4 linked regions of the Homo sapiens genome follow. The protein of the gene in region 2 purifies or fractionates together with the protein of the main gene of each other region. This does not show direct contact. Each region holds a gene or a part of one and is shown on either strand. Other genes may lie near its edges.

The links.
Region 1: the proteins of PARVG (region 2) and POLK purify together in Homo sapiens (affinity purification with mass spectrometry; 3 studies listed by BioGRID and IntAct, with this or other methods). This does not show direct contact.
Region 3: the proteins of PARVG (region 2) and BCAP31 purify together in Homo sapiens (co-immunoprecipitation; one large-scale study listed by IntAct). This does not show direct contact.
Region 4: the proteins of PARVG (region 2) and MTX2 purify together in Homo sapiens (affinity purification with mass spectrometry; one large-scale study listed by BioGRID and IntAct). This does not show direct contact.

The regions. Positions count from the first base shown.
Region 1 is NC_000005.10:75,514,891-75,518,390, reverse strand, and holds part of POLK (DNA polymerase kappa), read right to left. Parts: intron 1-3,500. UniProt on the Homo sapiens protein: DNA polymerase specifically involved in DNA repair. Plays an important role in translesion synthesis, where the normal high-fidelity DNA polymerases cannot proceed and DNA synthesis stalls.
Region 2 is NC_000022.11:44,187,425-44,190,924, reverse strand, and holds part of PARVG (gamma-parvin), read right to left. Parts: intron 3,150-3,500; coding exon 3,047-3,149; intron 1,812-3,046; coding exon 1,671-1,811; intron 375-1,670; coding exon 259-374; intron 1-258. UniProt on the Homo sapiens protein: Plays a role with ILK in promoting the cell adhesion and spreading of leukocytes.
Region 3 is NC_000023.11:153,717,888-153,721,387, forward strand, and holds part of BCAP31 (B-cell receptor-associated protein 31), read right to left. Parts: intron 3,086-3,500; coding exon 2,985-3,085; intron 1-2,984. UniProt on the Homo sapiens protein: Functions as a chaperone protein. Is one of the most abundant endoplasmic reticulum (ER) proteins.
Region 4 is NC_000002.12:176,321,442-176,324,941, reverse strand, and holds part of MTX2 (metaxin-2), read right to left. Parts: intron 1,551-3,500; coding exon 1,478-1,550; intron 1-1,477. UniProt on the Homo sapiens protein: Involved in transport of proteins into the mitochondrion.

The DNA of each region.
Region 1 (3,500 bases), on a different chromosome or scaffold from region 2:
TAATAAATTCCTGGACACTTACAACCTACCAAGATTGAAACATGAATAAACTGAAAACCTGAACAGACCAGTAAGTAATAAGATGGAAGCTGCAATAAAAAGTCTTTCATCAAAGAAAAGCCTGGAACCTGATGGCTTCACTGCTGAATTCTACCCAACATTTCAAGAATAACTAATTCTCACTTCTACTCAAACTCTTCCAAAACAAAACAAAACAAAAAATTAAAGAGGGAATACTTCCAAACTCATTCTACAAGGCCAGCATTACCTTGATATCAAAACCAAATAAGGACACAACAAAAAAGAAAACTACAGGCCAATATTACTGATGAATACAGATGCAAAAATTCTCAACAAAATACTAGCAAATCACATTAATAAGATCCTTCATCATGATCAAGTGGGATTCATCCAAGGGACGCAAGGATAGTTCAACATATTCAAATCAATAAACATGATACATCACATTAACAGAATCAAGAACCAAAAACATATGACCATTTCAATAGATGCTGAAAAAGTATTTGACAAATTCAACATCTCTTTATGATAAAAACCCTCAGCAAACTGGATACAGCAGGAACATGTTCCCAAATAATAAAGGCCACATGTGATAAAACCACAGCTAACATCACACTGAATGGTGAAATATTGAAAGCCTTTCCTCTAAGATCTGGAACAAGACAAGGATGCCCACCTTCACCACTGTTATCTAATATAATACTGAAAGCCCTGGTCACAGCAATCAGACAAGAGAAAGAAATAAAGGGCATCTAAATTGCAAAGGAAGGAGTCAAGTTATCTTTGTAGGCAACATAATCTTATATTTACAAAACCCCTAAAGACTCCACCAAAAGCTGTTAAGAACTGATAAACAAATTCAGTAAAGTGTCAGGATACAAAATTAACATACAAAAGTCAGTACAGACTTTTTTTTATTTAGATTGCTTTCTTGATTTATTTTTCATGTTGTTTGCTGTTAGAGCATAACATTTACAATAGTTACAAATAATATAAAATACGAAGCAATTATCTTAAGTGAAAGATCTGTAAAAGAAAACTATAAAACACTGATGAAGAAAATTGAAGACACAAATAAAAGGAAAGATATTCTAAGCTTGTGGAATTAGAAGAATATTGTTAAAACGACAATACTACCCAAAACAATTTTCAGATTCAATGCAATCTCTATCAAAATACCAGTGACATTCTTCACAGAAATAGAAAAAGAATCCTAAAACGTATATAGAACCACAAAAAGACTCTGAATAGCCAAAGCAGTCCTAGGGGAAAAGAACAAAGCTTGGGGCATCACACTATCTGACTTCAAAATATACTACAAAGCTATAGTAACCAAATGACCATAATACTGGCAAGAAAATAGACACATGGACAAATGGAACAGAATAGAGAACCCAGATATAAATCCACACATTTACAACCAAGTAATTTTTGACAAAGCAATCAAGAACACATCATGGTAAAAGGATAGTCTCTTCAATAAATGGTGCTGGGAAAACTGGATAACCACATGCAGAAGAATAAGACTATCTCTCAGATATTTCTTCCTTATCTCTTTGATTTTTGATACAAAAATCAAATCAAAATGGATTAGAAACTTAAATGTAAGATCTGAAATTATGAAACTACTAGAAAAATGTATTTGGGAAATACTCCAGGACATTGGCCTGGCCAAAAGTTGTTTTATTTTGTTTTTTTGTTTTTGGAGACAGGGTCTCACTCTGTTACCTGGCTTTGAATGCAGTGGTGTAATCACAGCTTTCTATACCCTTGACCTCCTGAGCTCAAGCAATCCTCCCACCTCAGGCTCCTGAGTAGCTGGGATCACAGGTGTGTGCTACCACATCCAGCTAATTTTATTTATTCATTTAACTTTATTTTTAAACTTTTAATGTTTTAAACTTTTTTCTTTAATTTTATTTTAATTTTTAAACTTTTAAAATTCTTTTTGCAAAAGTAGGGTCTCCCTATGTTGCCCAGACTGGTCTGAAACTCCTGGGGTCAAGCAATCCTCTGCCTCAGCCTCCCAAAGTGCTGGGATTATAGGCATGAGGCACAACTCTTGGCCTGGCCAAAAACTTTTCTGTGTAAGACCACAAAAGCACTGACAACCAAAGCAAACGTAGACAAATTAGATTATATCAAGCTAAAAAGCTTCTTCACAGCTGAGTGAACAATCAACAAAGTGAAGGGACAACCCACAGAACAGGAGAAAATGTCTGCAAACTATCCATCTGACAAGGGATTAGTAACCAGAATATATAAGGAGCTCAAACAACTCAATAAAAGAAAAATAATCTTATTTAAAAATGGGCAAAAGAATAGACATTTCTCAAAATAAGGCATACTAATGGCCAACAGGTAAATTAAAAAAATGTTCAACATCACTAATCATCATAGAAATGCAAATCAAAACCACAATGAGCTATCATCTTACCCCAGTCAAAATGGCTTAAAAAAAATTTTTTTTATTATACTAGAGACGAGGTCTCACTACGTTGCCCACGCTAGTTTTAAACTCCTGAGCAGCTCAAGTGATCCTCTCACCTCAGTCACCATGGGCGGCCTAAAATGGCTTTTATTAAAAAGATAGAGAATAATGGATGGTGGCAAGGATGTGGAGAAAGGGGAACCCTGCTACACTGTTGGTGGGAATGTAAATTAGTACAGTCACTATGGAATACAGTATGGAGGTTCCTCAGAAAACTTAAAATACAACTACTGTATGATCTAGCAATTCTACTACTACGTATATATCCAAAAGGGAAATCAATACATTGAAGAGATATCTGCACTCACACGTTTATTACAGCACTATTCACAATAGCTAAAATATGGAATCAACCATCAATGGATGAATGGATAAAGAAGATGTGGTCTATATACACAATGGAATTTAGCCATAAAAAAAGAATATTGGGCCTGGCATGTTGGCTCACATCAAATCTCAACACTTTGGGAGGCCAAGGCAGGAGGATTGCTTGAGGCCTCCCTATTTCAAGAATATATGGAATAAAAATTTGGGTTTGCTATGTTTTTATTTTTATTATAATTTCTAATAAAGTTGTTTTTCCACTATCCCTTTATTGCTGCTTCTCAGGACTATTCATAAAATGACCAAAAATACAAAAAATAAAATGATAGTAAATGACAATGACTATTTTTCCTGATAATACCAAAGGTTAAATCAATACGTTTTTCCTTTTAGTAGCAACACAAGACAAGGGGATAGTTGCAAGAGGCTCCAGAGATCATTTAAATTATTTATGCGTAATTGGAACATATATTTGCTAGTGTACACTAGCAAGAAAAGAGCTGTAAACTGGCTATATGTTACTGCACCTTAAAAATGCATGTGGATGAATTTTCTTTTAAGAAAACTGTTAAACTAAAGAAAAACTATGTAACACACCTAGAATGTAATCTATCTGGCTCTGACAGATTCTCAAATGTTTAATCATTTAAAAAATTTGGGATAA
Region 2 (3,500 bases):
TGAGGTCAAGTGGAGCTGGCCAGCCGTGGACCTCCTCATGCCCCCAGGCCTCCGCCAGCCCCACTAGACCCTTACCAGCCCGTCCCCAGCTCCAGACAGCACCCCCTGGCCATCCTGGCTGGATTCTATTTCTCAGGGTTCCCTGAAACTCACCCTGGGTCAGCCCCGCCCCAGCCAGCTCCACCCATGCAGGGTACGGCAATGGGGGCCCAAGAGGCTCAGCTTCTGCTTACAAATCCCTGGGGCCCAGGCTGCTACCTCGATAGTGATGACCTCCACCTGGACGTTGGTTGGGAGGGAGAGGTCGGGCTGGAAGCGCTTGGCCAGGGCCACAAGGAGGTGCAGGGTAGACAACAGGTCCTTGTTGAAGATGCCTGGGAAGAGAGTGGAGACAGGTCAGAGCCCAGGAGGCCGCCAAAACGTGCAGCCAAATGGAGGCTTCCTCACTGTCAGAACAACCATCTGCAGACCAAGGAGGTCTGTGTCCAGCCTTCTGGAGAGCAGAGATCTGGAGATACGTGTTCAGAACCTAAAAATCATCACACTTCACCCCATCATCTCACTTCTTAGAATATAGCCCAGGGGTATGATCTACCTTGTGGAAGGGGCTCTAGACACAAAGATGTTTACTGCAGCACTGTTTACAATCGGAAACAACCAAGTGACCTCTGGGAAGGCACTGGCTGAACGATCATTAGATTTCAGCTGCATGTGACTTAATTCAGGGTTGATTTCATCAACATCAATTACTGATTGTGAGACCTTACAGGCTGCGAATGCAGGCGCATGGGACCCAACAAAACCTGGGTTTGAAAACGGACTCTGTTAAATCCTCACCGCCCAACCTTGGAGAAGCTGCATAATTTCTTTCAGCCTCAGTTTTCTCATCTGGGTGGGGTGGGGGGATATGGAGAATTGAAGGGAAGGAAATCTATACCAAACTGTGAACCAGGTGGGGTGGGGAAGTCTAGGTGTTTGGCACGCTCTCTTGGTTTTTGTGTTTCTTTGATAAGGAGTCTCACTCTTGTAGCCCAGACTGGAGTGAAGTGGTGCAATCTGGGCTCACTGCAACCTCTGCCTCCCAGGTTCAAGCGATTCTCCTGCCTCAGCCTCCTGAGTAGCTGGGATTACAGGCACCGGCCACCACGCCCAGCTAATTTTTGTATTTTTAGTAGAGATGGGGTTTCACCATGTTGACCAGGCTGGTCTCAAACTCCTGACCTCAGGTGATCCACCCGCCTCGGCCTCCCAAAGTGCTGGGATTACAGGTGTGAGACACCACACCCGACCAGGCACACTCATTTTTTGTATAAGCAGGCCCTGCAGATATTCCAATACTTTAATGAAATGAGAGTGTGGATGGGCGGACCACGGTACTTGGAACTCAACAGTGGCTGTCATTCAGATAGCAAACAGAGACTGTTTGCTATCCTTGGGCTGCACTTTGCAGCAGTAACACCCTCTAGGGCACAGATGTGTGCTGGGCTGTTGGCTGCTCAGCCAGATGCCTGACTGTGGCTGCCTGAGGCTTCTACCTCCTTCCTGACTCCCAGGTTGTACCCCTGCTGGGAGAAGGATGAGTGCGCCTTCCTGGTGGGTGAGAAGCCTGAAGCAGAAGGACCCCAGCGGCCCCACACTCCCCAGGGGTAGCCAGGTTGTGGCCCACGTACTCTCCACGCTCCACTTGGCCTGCCACTCCTCCAGCTGCAGACTCCGGTTCACGGCCTCCAGCACCACTGTGAGCTTGTGCTTCTGGCTTGTGGCTGTCAGGGCGATGTCCTCTGCTTCCAGCTTGAGCGCCGCCAGCCTCTCTGGAGGCAGGAGAGGGTGGTGAGGACCCCTGGCCGGGGACAGACCAGAGAGCACCTCAGGGACCCTCCAGGAGGCTGAGCCTGCCTGGTGCTTCAGGGAACATGGGTCTGGAGAGCCCATTCTTGGTGTTGGACCGTGGGCCACACTCACAGCCTCAATCGGGTATGCCCTCCAGCTTCCAGGAGACCCTCATCTACACAGAACAGGATTGGTGGGCCATGCAGGCCACATGATGTGAGCAAGCCTCAGCCCCCTGAGCTGGTTGAGAGAGCCCACCTCACCTTGATCAGCCTGTGCCTGCAGCCCCTGCCCTTCTGCACAGCTGTGTCCACTTCATCTCTGCAGGGCAGTGTGGCCTAGTGGTTAAAGCCTACACTCCTAGGCTTCTATCCTGACCCCCCTGCTTCCCTAACCATAAGACCTTGGAGAAATTATGAGGCCTCTCAGAGGCTCCCTTTCCTCATCTGTGAAATGGGGACAGTAACAGCACAGGGCTATTCTGAGGATGAACTGCACCTGCTACATGGGACATGCCCGGAAGTGCTAGCCGCATGAGTGGGATTGTGCAGCCCATCTCCAAAGAGCTCGGCGAACACTGCAGAGGCTGGCCTCAGGCGAAGTGCTGAGGACATGGAATTGGGCCTATCTGTGGCCTCCGAGACCACAGTTGTGTGCAGAAGAGATGCGTAGACCAGACATGACCATACAAGGACAAAGGAGAGGGTGACTCTGGGGCTTGTGGGGAACACTTGCCCGGGACCAGGAGGAGGCCCTGAGAATGCACATCCCCTGCAAAGCCCCTTGGAGCTTTCCAGACTGAGGAGGAACACGGAGACAGGAGCCCAGCCCTGCCCCCAGCCACCCAGGACTGCCCGTTTTCTCTCTAGCAGCCTAGGGCAGCCCGAGGGCAGGGATCATGGGTTCTTTTGTTACCTCCCAGCACCTCAAAACAGCAGGCACTCAATAAGTGTTAGAGAGGCAGTGTGGTGTGGTAGAAAGAGCACCAACCCTGGCGTCAGAGCCCCACCCTGAGCCCCAGCTCGGCCCCCTCACTCATGGGCTGTGGACAGCGCCTCCATCTCCCCAGCCCAGGCCCATCTAGAAAGTGAGACAGGTGTCCCTAAACCCGGGACCATTGTGGGGACTGAAGGAGAGAGCCTACCTGTGGGCCCTGGAGGGGCCAGGTCAGGGGGATGGGGCCGAGGCCCAGGCAGCCCCAGAAACAGCCACTTACGGAATAGGTGGTGTAGGATGAGCCCGTCGAACATGTCCTCCTCCAGGCTGCGGACCACAATGTGCTCGGGGAGAAGAGTGGCATTGATCCACTCCATCAACACCTGCAGGCTCCAAGGGGACAACTTTTGGGGGGATGGAGACTTCTCACCTGGCCCTCCACCTGGCTCAGAATGCCTGCCTCTCGCCTGCCAACTCCTACCCATCTTTCAAGGCCTGGTCAAATGTCACCTCCACTGGGAAGCCCTCCTTGATCTCCCAGGCTGTTAGGGGCCTGCCCCAGGTTCCTGCAGACTCCCTGCTTCTCTCCATCACAAACCTGAGCAGTGTGGGGCTGTCATTATCATGTGTGAGGTTTTAGTACCAGGAAGTGGGGTACTACCATAGCAAATACCCAAAAATGGGGAAATGGCTTGGGGAATGGAAAGAATTGGACAATGAGCACTTGATAGAAA
Region 3 (3,500 bases), on a different chromosome or scaffold from region 2:
AATTCACCTCTGAAATTATCCCACAGAAGTATTTGCATAAATTTGCAATGATTCGAAGATGCTTATAAAGAATGGATTACGGCACAACCACATGAGAGAATACTACATGATCTTTAAGAAGAATGAGATTGCTATAAAAAGATGTTGGCCGGACACAGTGGCTCATGCCTGTAATTTCAGCACTTTGGGAGGCCGAGGTGGGCGGATCACTTGAGGCCAGGAGTTCAAGACCAGCCTGGCCAACACGGTGAAACCTCGTCTCTACTAAAAATACAAAAAATTAGCCGGGCATGGTGGCGGGCGCCTGTAACCTGCAGCTACTCGGAAGCTGAGGCAGGGGAAATCGCTTGAACCTGGGAGGCGGAGGTTGCAGTGAGCCAAGATGGCGCCACTGCACTGCAGTCTGGGCAACAAAGTGAGATTCCATCTCAAAAAAAAAAAAAAAAAAAAAAGATGTCTAACGTGCAGCAGGTAGAAAAAGCACAATCCAAAGTATTGGCTAGGCTCTGCTATGGACAGCAGTCTTATCTCAGAGCTGTGCTACCAGCTCAGGCGTGGAATGCTCCTCCTGCCATGTCCCAGCAGGAATGTGGAAAGAAACATAAATACTTTGTGTGTATGATCCCACCGTTGTAGACATTTTATTAAAGATGTCAGCATACAAAACCCCTCTGGAAATGCACAACAAAATACTCATGATGGTTACCTGTGGGAAATGGGATTATGGGGAGTTTAACTTTCTAAATTCAACTTTTGAATTTTTAAGAATAATTACCCATTATTTTTGTAATCAGAAAAACAAGATAAACATGTTTCCTTACACTGTCACCTGCATCCAGGAACCCCACCATCCTAAGGACCACCTTGGCCAATGACCAATAGTGGGGATGGGGGACTGAGCAATACTAACCCAAGTCCCACAGTAGAAACCAGCCCTCCCTGTCTCGGGCCTCAGCCCAGGTGGGAAGATCCTGCACCCTCAGCAACTCCATCCTCCAGGAGGATCTGCTCAACCCTCCCCACCCCCAAGCAAGGCCACAGCTCTAGCTAGTTATGCCCCTTACCCTTCACTAGTACCTGTGACTAACACTTCTGTTTGAAGAAGGCTCTGCAGATCTTTCTAGATTATGCTTCTTAACATGGGAGTAGGAAGCAGCCAGTCATCATGGCCATATGTCCCCCTAGAACTTCCAAGCAGTTCCCCGATCCCAAAAAAGAATGAAGGCTTTGTCAACTACTGGATTCCGCAAAGGATCTCTCCAGCCCACTCAGCTGCTCTAGGAAAGAAACATACTCCTTCTGGTTTGGGGAAGGGGCAAGACCCTGAGGGAATCATCCTCAGCATGGTCCCTCCCCTCCCCAGTTATTACCCCCACCCCAGACCCAAAAGCCAAAACACACATGCTCAGTTCAAAAACTCAGTGGCCTGGGGATGACACATATATTACCTACCTACTCCTGGCTTGGAGGCTGCTCAGGGCGAGAACCCTGGTTAGAAAGAGCTACTACCTCTTGGGGCCTTGCCAAGTATTTCAAGAACACTGAGGTGCTCAGGCAGCTGGCACCTACCCTATGTGGTTGGAAGCTGTCAGGTAACACTTGGCCTGTTCAGAGGCAGTCCAGCCTGAACATATCCTATCAGGCTCTGAGACATCAGGAAGGAGAAATGCCTAATGCTGAAGCTGGTGGGTGAGGCTTTGCACATTCCCCTGAACCACAGCCCCCCACCCGCTCAGTGTTTCTGCTGGGACTCGGTGGGAGGAGTGTTCCACGCCTAGGCAGGCACCACAGCTCTGAGACAAGAGTGGTGTCCACAGCAGAGCCAAGCCAATACTTTGGAGCCCAAACAGGGGGACATATCGATCACTTACCACAGCAAAACAACAAACATCTACCAGTCAGACAAGAGCTTTATTGATTCTTGTCTCCAGATGGTCACCCTACCACCTCATTGCAAAATGTCTGCCTTTCATCTTACCACCACCTGGCCTGGCCTTATCCCAGAGCCTGCTTGCCCTTGGACCAGTTTATCTTTCAAGCACCTGCTAGTGTACACCTCAATGTCAGAGTTTACAGAACTACAGAGCTGGAACGACCTGGGAAAACCTCAAGTCTAGCCCAGATGCAGAGAGGTCTAGGATCTCTCCCCAAGATATGCTGCCACACATCTCTGTGTTCTCCTCCTACTACTACAGGGAATGGCAGGACTTCACTGTGTGCTTGGTTGCTCAGTCCCCCATTAGAGGCCCTGCTCCAGGCAATTCTGCTGTTTAAGTGACTGGTGAGCAGCACTACTCAGACCAAGGTCACAGGCCAGTTAGCTTCTCTTGGCTTCAGTTCTAGAGTGACCTGAGGAGCAGCCTCAGAAACCTTAGGCGTCCCTCCTTCCAAGGTCTTGAAAAAAAGCAATGTAAGGTGGCCGTCATAAGCTGCATACAAACTGCTTGGTATAAGCCCACGCCCACTGCTAGAGGGGCCTCTTTTTTTTTTTTTTGAGATGGAGTCTCCCTCTTGTTGCCCAGGCTGGAGTGCAATGGTGCGATTTAGGCTCACTGCAACCTCTGCCTCGTGGGTTCAAGCAATTCTCCTGCCTCAGTCTCCCAAGTAGCTGGGATTACAGGTGCCCGCCACCACGCCCAGCTAATTTTGTATTTTTCGTAGAGATGGGGTTTCACCACGTTGGCCAGGCTGATCTCGAACTCCTCATCTCAGGTGATCCACCGACCTCAGCCTCCCAAAGTGCTGGGATTACAGGCATGAGCCACCATGTACGGCCTAGAGGGGCCTCAAAGTGAAGAACCGACTAGCGGTCAGCAGCATGGGCAAAGGGAGCCTCTTCCCTCCCTCAAGAGAAAGACACAGCATTTCATTGGTCTGTCTCCTAGCAGCCAAAACTGGATGCTACACATCAAAAGTGGCAAAGGGTTTTGCAGCAGAGACCAGGGTCTAGGTCAGGTAGCTGCCCTCAGCCATAGCTCACTCACCGATGACCAACAGCACAAGGATGACAATGAGAACCACAAAGAAGGTGTTGCCATAGGACACTAACAACTCCACCAGCCGGGACTTGAAAATCTTCTGCCATCTGTGAAGAAGACAAAAAGGACAGGAGTTGAAGAGAAAGCACACACACGAGCTCTAGGGCCCTGAGCAAAATGGAAATCCAGCTTTGTACTCTTCTCCAATGGCCGAATAGCCCATGCAAAGTCAGCCTCAGTGGCTTGCAATTCTCTAATTTGACATCCATTCAAGACTATTGGAAAAAAGGCCAGGTGCAATGGCTCACACCTGTAATCTCAGCACTTTGGGAGACCAAGGTGGGTGGATCACTTGAGGTCAGGAGTGCAAGACCAAACTGGCCAACATGGCGAAACCCTGTCTCTACTAAAAGTACGAAAATTAGCCAGGCGTGGTGGTGGGCACCTGTAATCCCAGCTACTCAGGAGGGTGAGGCAGGAGAATCACTTGAACCTGGGAGGCGGAAGTTGCAGTGAGCCGAG
Region 4 (3,500 bases), on a different chromosome or scaffold from region 2:
CAAAGAAGCAAATACAATAAAAAACATTTCCCTATCACCTCAAATCATTAAATGAAAGAGAATACCAATCTGAGATATGATAAAGTTTAAATATCTTAGTAGAAAGTGCCATTTTCATCTACCTATAGGAGACTCCTATGAAAGAATGTATATTTTTGTATGTCTCTAGAATATTTATGTTTGTCTTTCGCGCAATCTAATAAAAAGAAAATAGGTATCTACCTAAATGACACTAAGTATAGTAATTTTAGGAAACAGGTAGATAAACTATATTGATATCTCACTTGCCAAAGATCTGAACTTTAGCATTAGATTACTAACCTTCTAACCTTTTTACATAAATATACAAACTGTTTGTATGACTACATAGAGGAAAAGGATGGACAAAACACAACATAACTTATTTCACCAGAACTCTGTAGTTCCTAAAATCTACGTATAAAACCAACACAAAAATGAGTCAATGAATGCCCTCCAAGAATCTAAAATATGTTTACATTTACAAGCCTAGAAATTATTTTATGGAAATGTTTTCTAAATGTATATTCATAAACCTCTAAAACCAGGTATTTATATAAAAGAACATTATGTACAGAAGGGGTGTCTTCATACCTTTTAACAATTTCTACCACCCTTAAAAACTTAAGGTGGAAAAAAAAAATTTAACACAAGTCACTCCTAAATTATCATATCAAAATGAAAAATGTCTCCCTAAAAAGCAATGTTACACACTTATACCAATCAGTTATACTTAATAATTTATTCAAAAAGGAGTAATTCTACGTATTATTGCTCCAACAAAACCATAATTACAATAATCATCCATGATAATTATATATAACATTTATTTATCAGCTTTGTAGCACATTTTTATATTAAAAATTTTGAATTATTTATTTAAAACAGTAATTTAATCTACTGACATAAAGATAATACTGATTTTAAAAAATAGGAAGCTAAAGCATCTCAAAACCTGTTAAAATTAAGCATTAGAAAAAATAATTAGAAACCAAAAACATTCAGTGATGACTTCAAGATCTAACGACAAATTAATTTTTCTACAATCTCTCTTCTTCCAGCTGTATTATGGGAGAATATAATTAAGAAAGATGTGTGGAATAATAAATGGATTCATTATTACTAAAATTTGTTTTCTCAACAGGAAAGTCTTATGTACATTAAGACTAGGGAAATCTGAGATCATGTATTTCCTTAACATTTACTATTTAAAACAATTCCCTTACTATTAAAACCATTTCCACACGTCAGTAACCATCTCTGATCACAGTTGAAATGAATAGATATGCCAACCCCAAGATTGTCAAATTTGCAATTGTTACTTTCTAAAACCATGGAAAGATTCTTCAAAGGGTAAACAAAAAAAATCAGGCATTTTAACATGTAGATACAAACTGGACTATCACTATAATTTTATCACTCCATAATATTAACAGAGAAGAAAAAAAAACACACTTACCAGATGGAGACATATATTCTGCATTTGCCCTACAAACTACTTTGATAGGCAAGTTACACATTTGCAAAAAGGCCTGTAAATCAAGATACATACAATAAGCCCAGTAAAAAGCATATGCATATTTGAACAGAAATTTGTATGCATTTCTTTTCTAAACTGAATAGTTTCATACTACAAAACTCTAATAGAAAACAATGAACCAATTTAAAGTGAAGGATTTGTTTTCCAAACAAAAATGTCATGTCACTACTTAAAAATCAGTATGATTTAGACATCAGTAAATACATGAAACTTAAAGTATGTATGTATACCTAAGGAATAAAATGTAAATTATCCACATTTATGTTACTGTATTAGTTTATGTAAACCAGCAATACTATATATATAGCTTTAATTTTCTTAAGTAGATGACTAAAGTCCAAATTTTATAAGCTATTAATTGCTTCATTCCACTATTTTCTATAGGATCATCATCTTCCTCATTTTAGAGGAAAACTCAAAATACTATCTCTGCTACCTCAAAGTTCTCTCCAGTAATACCCTATATTCCAACATGTAGTTTCTGTGCTCACGAATTCACTTTTTAAAGACTTAAATTGTTTATCTTTGCTCATAGTTACAAAAATGTTATAAGCAATTTAAATGTCTAATAATAAGGGTATGGGGTAAATCATTATAGTAAATCCAAACTATGGAATGCTATACACAATCAATTTTAAAACTCATGCTTTAGAAAAAATTTTACATCAAGAAAAAATGTACACATTATAATATTAAGTAAAAAAATGCAAAACTCTATTACTAGATCACACTAATTCATTTTTAAATGTTTTTAAGACACCAGTGAACTCTGCCAAACCCACTGTTTTTTACAATACTCAAAGTCCACTCCCCTTGTTCTCTCTTCTATGACTTCTTGGCTTCTTTTTCTCTATTCACAAAATTTACTATGTTATTTCTATAAAATAATTCAGTTATTCAATTGGGGAGGTCATAAGTTACAATGGTTCTAATTACCACATACAAATTGGAAGACAAACCTTTTGTCTATTTTGAAATTGAAAGTACTATAAATAGCTGTCAAAAGTAAGATAAGATAAATTAATAAATTAACAAGGATATTATTTATCATTTTACTCAACAGAGATTTCTCATAGGTTTATTATAATTCCTTCCTCAACTCTACATTAGAAATAAGTGTTAAGACTCTTAAGTGTTAAGGGTACAAAACAGTGATTAATATCTTGTACAAAGAACTCCATTTACCCAAAAGTATGTCAATTCTCTTCTGTTTTCTCAAAACTCCAGTCCTTTAGAGATGCCTGCCTCCAAAAATAAATCCCACGTGAGTCTGATTCCCCCACTAATTGCATCCTCTGATTCTTACATTGCTCTGTAACTTATGTATGCATGTCTGATCTCCTCAAGTAAATGGCATCTCTTAGAAAAGCAAGGGGGAGATTTTTAATTTTTTTTTTCAATTCTGTTCTCCTTCCCCCAATCTCCCTCATTTTCCCACAATTCATCTTTCATAGTGCACTACTTATAATAAGCAATATTGTTTACTGATTGAGCCATTCAAAGCTCCCAAGAGCTTATCCTGGTAGAGGCTGTTATCCCTGCCACATATGTTCTCTCCTTTCCCTACAGTGGTAGAAACTATCTGCACACAAGGCTGCCTAAAATAAAAACTTATTTTCCGGGCTCCCTTACAACTGGGTATGGCCAACTGGACTAAAAGTTCTGGACAACTGCTGGGAAGTTTCTTTAAAAGGAGAAAGTATCTCCTCTTTTTCCTCCCTGTTGACTAGAATGTAAAAAGGATGGCTATAGCTATAGCAGCCAAACAGAACCATGAAGTAGCAGCTGAGTGTTAGAAATGGTAGAGCAACAAGAGTAAAGGGGCCCAGGTTCTTGATAATCATGTAGTCACCAAACCTGGATTACCCGTGTTTGTCCGAGAAGTGAACTACCTTTTTAAGCTACCACTATATTGGGTTTCTGTCACTCACTGCCAAATCCA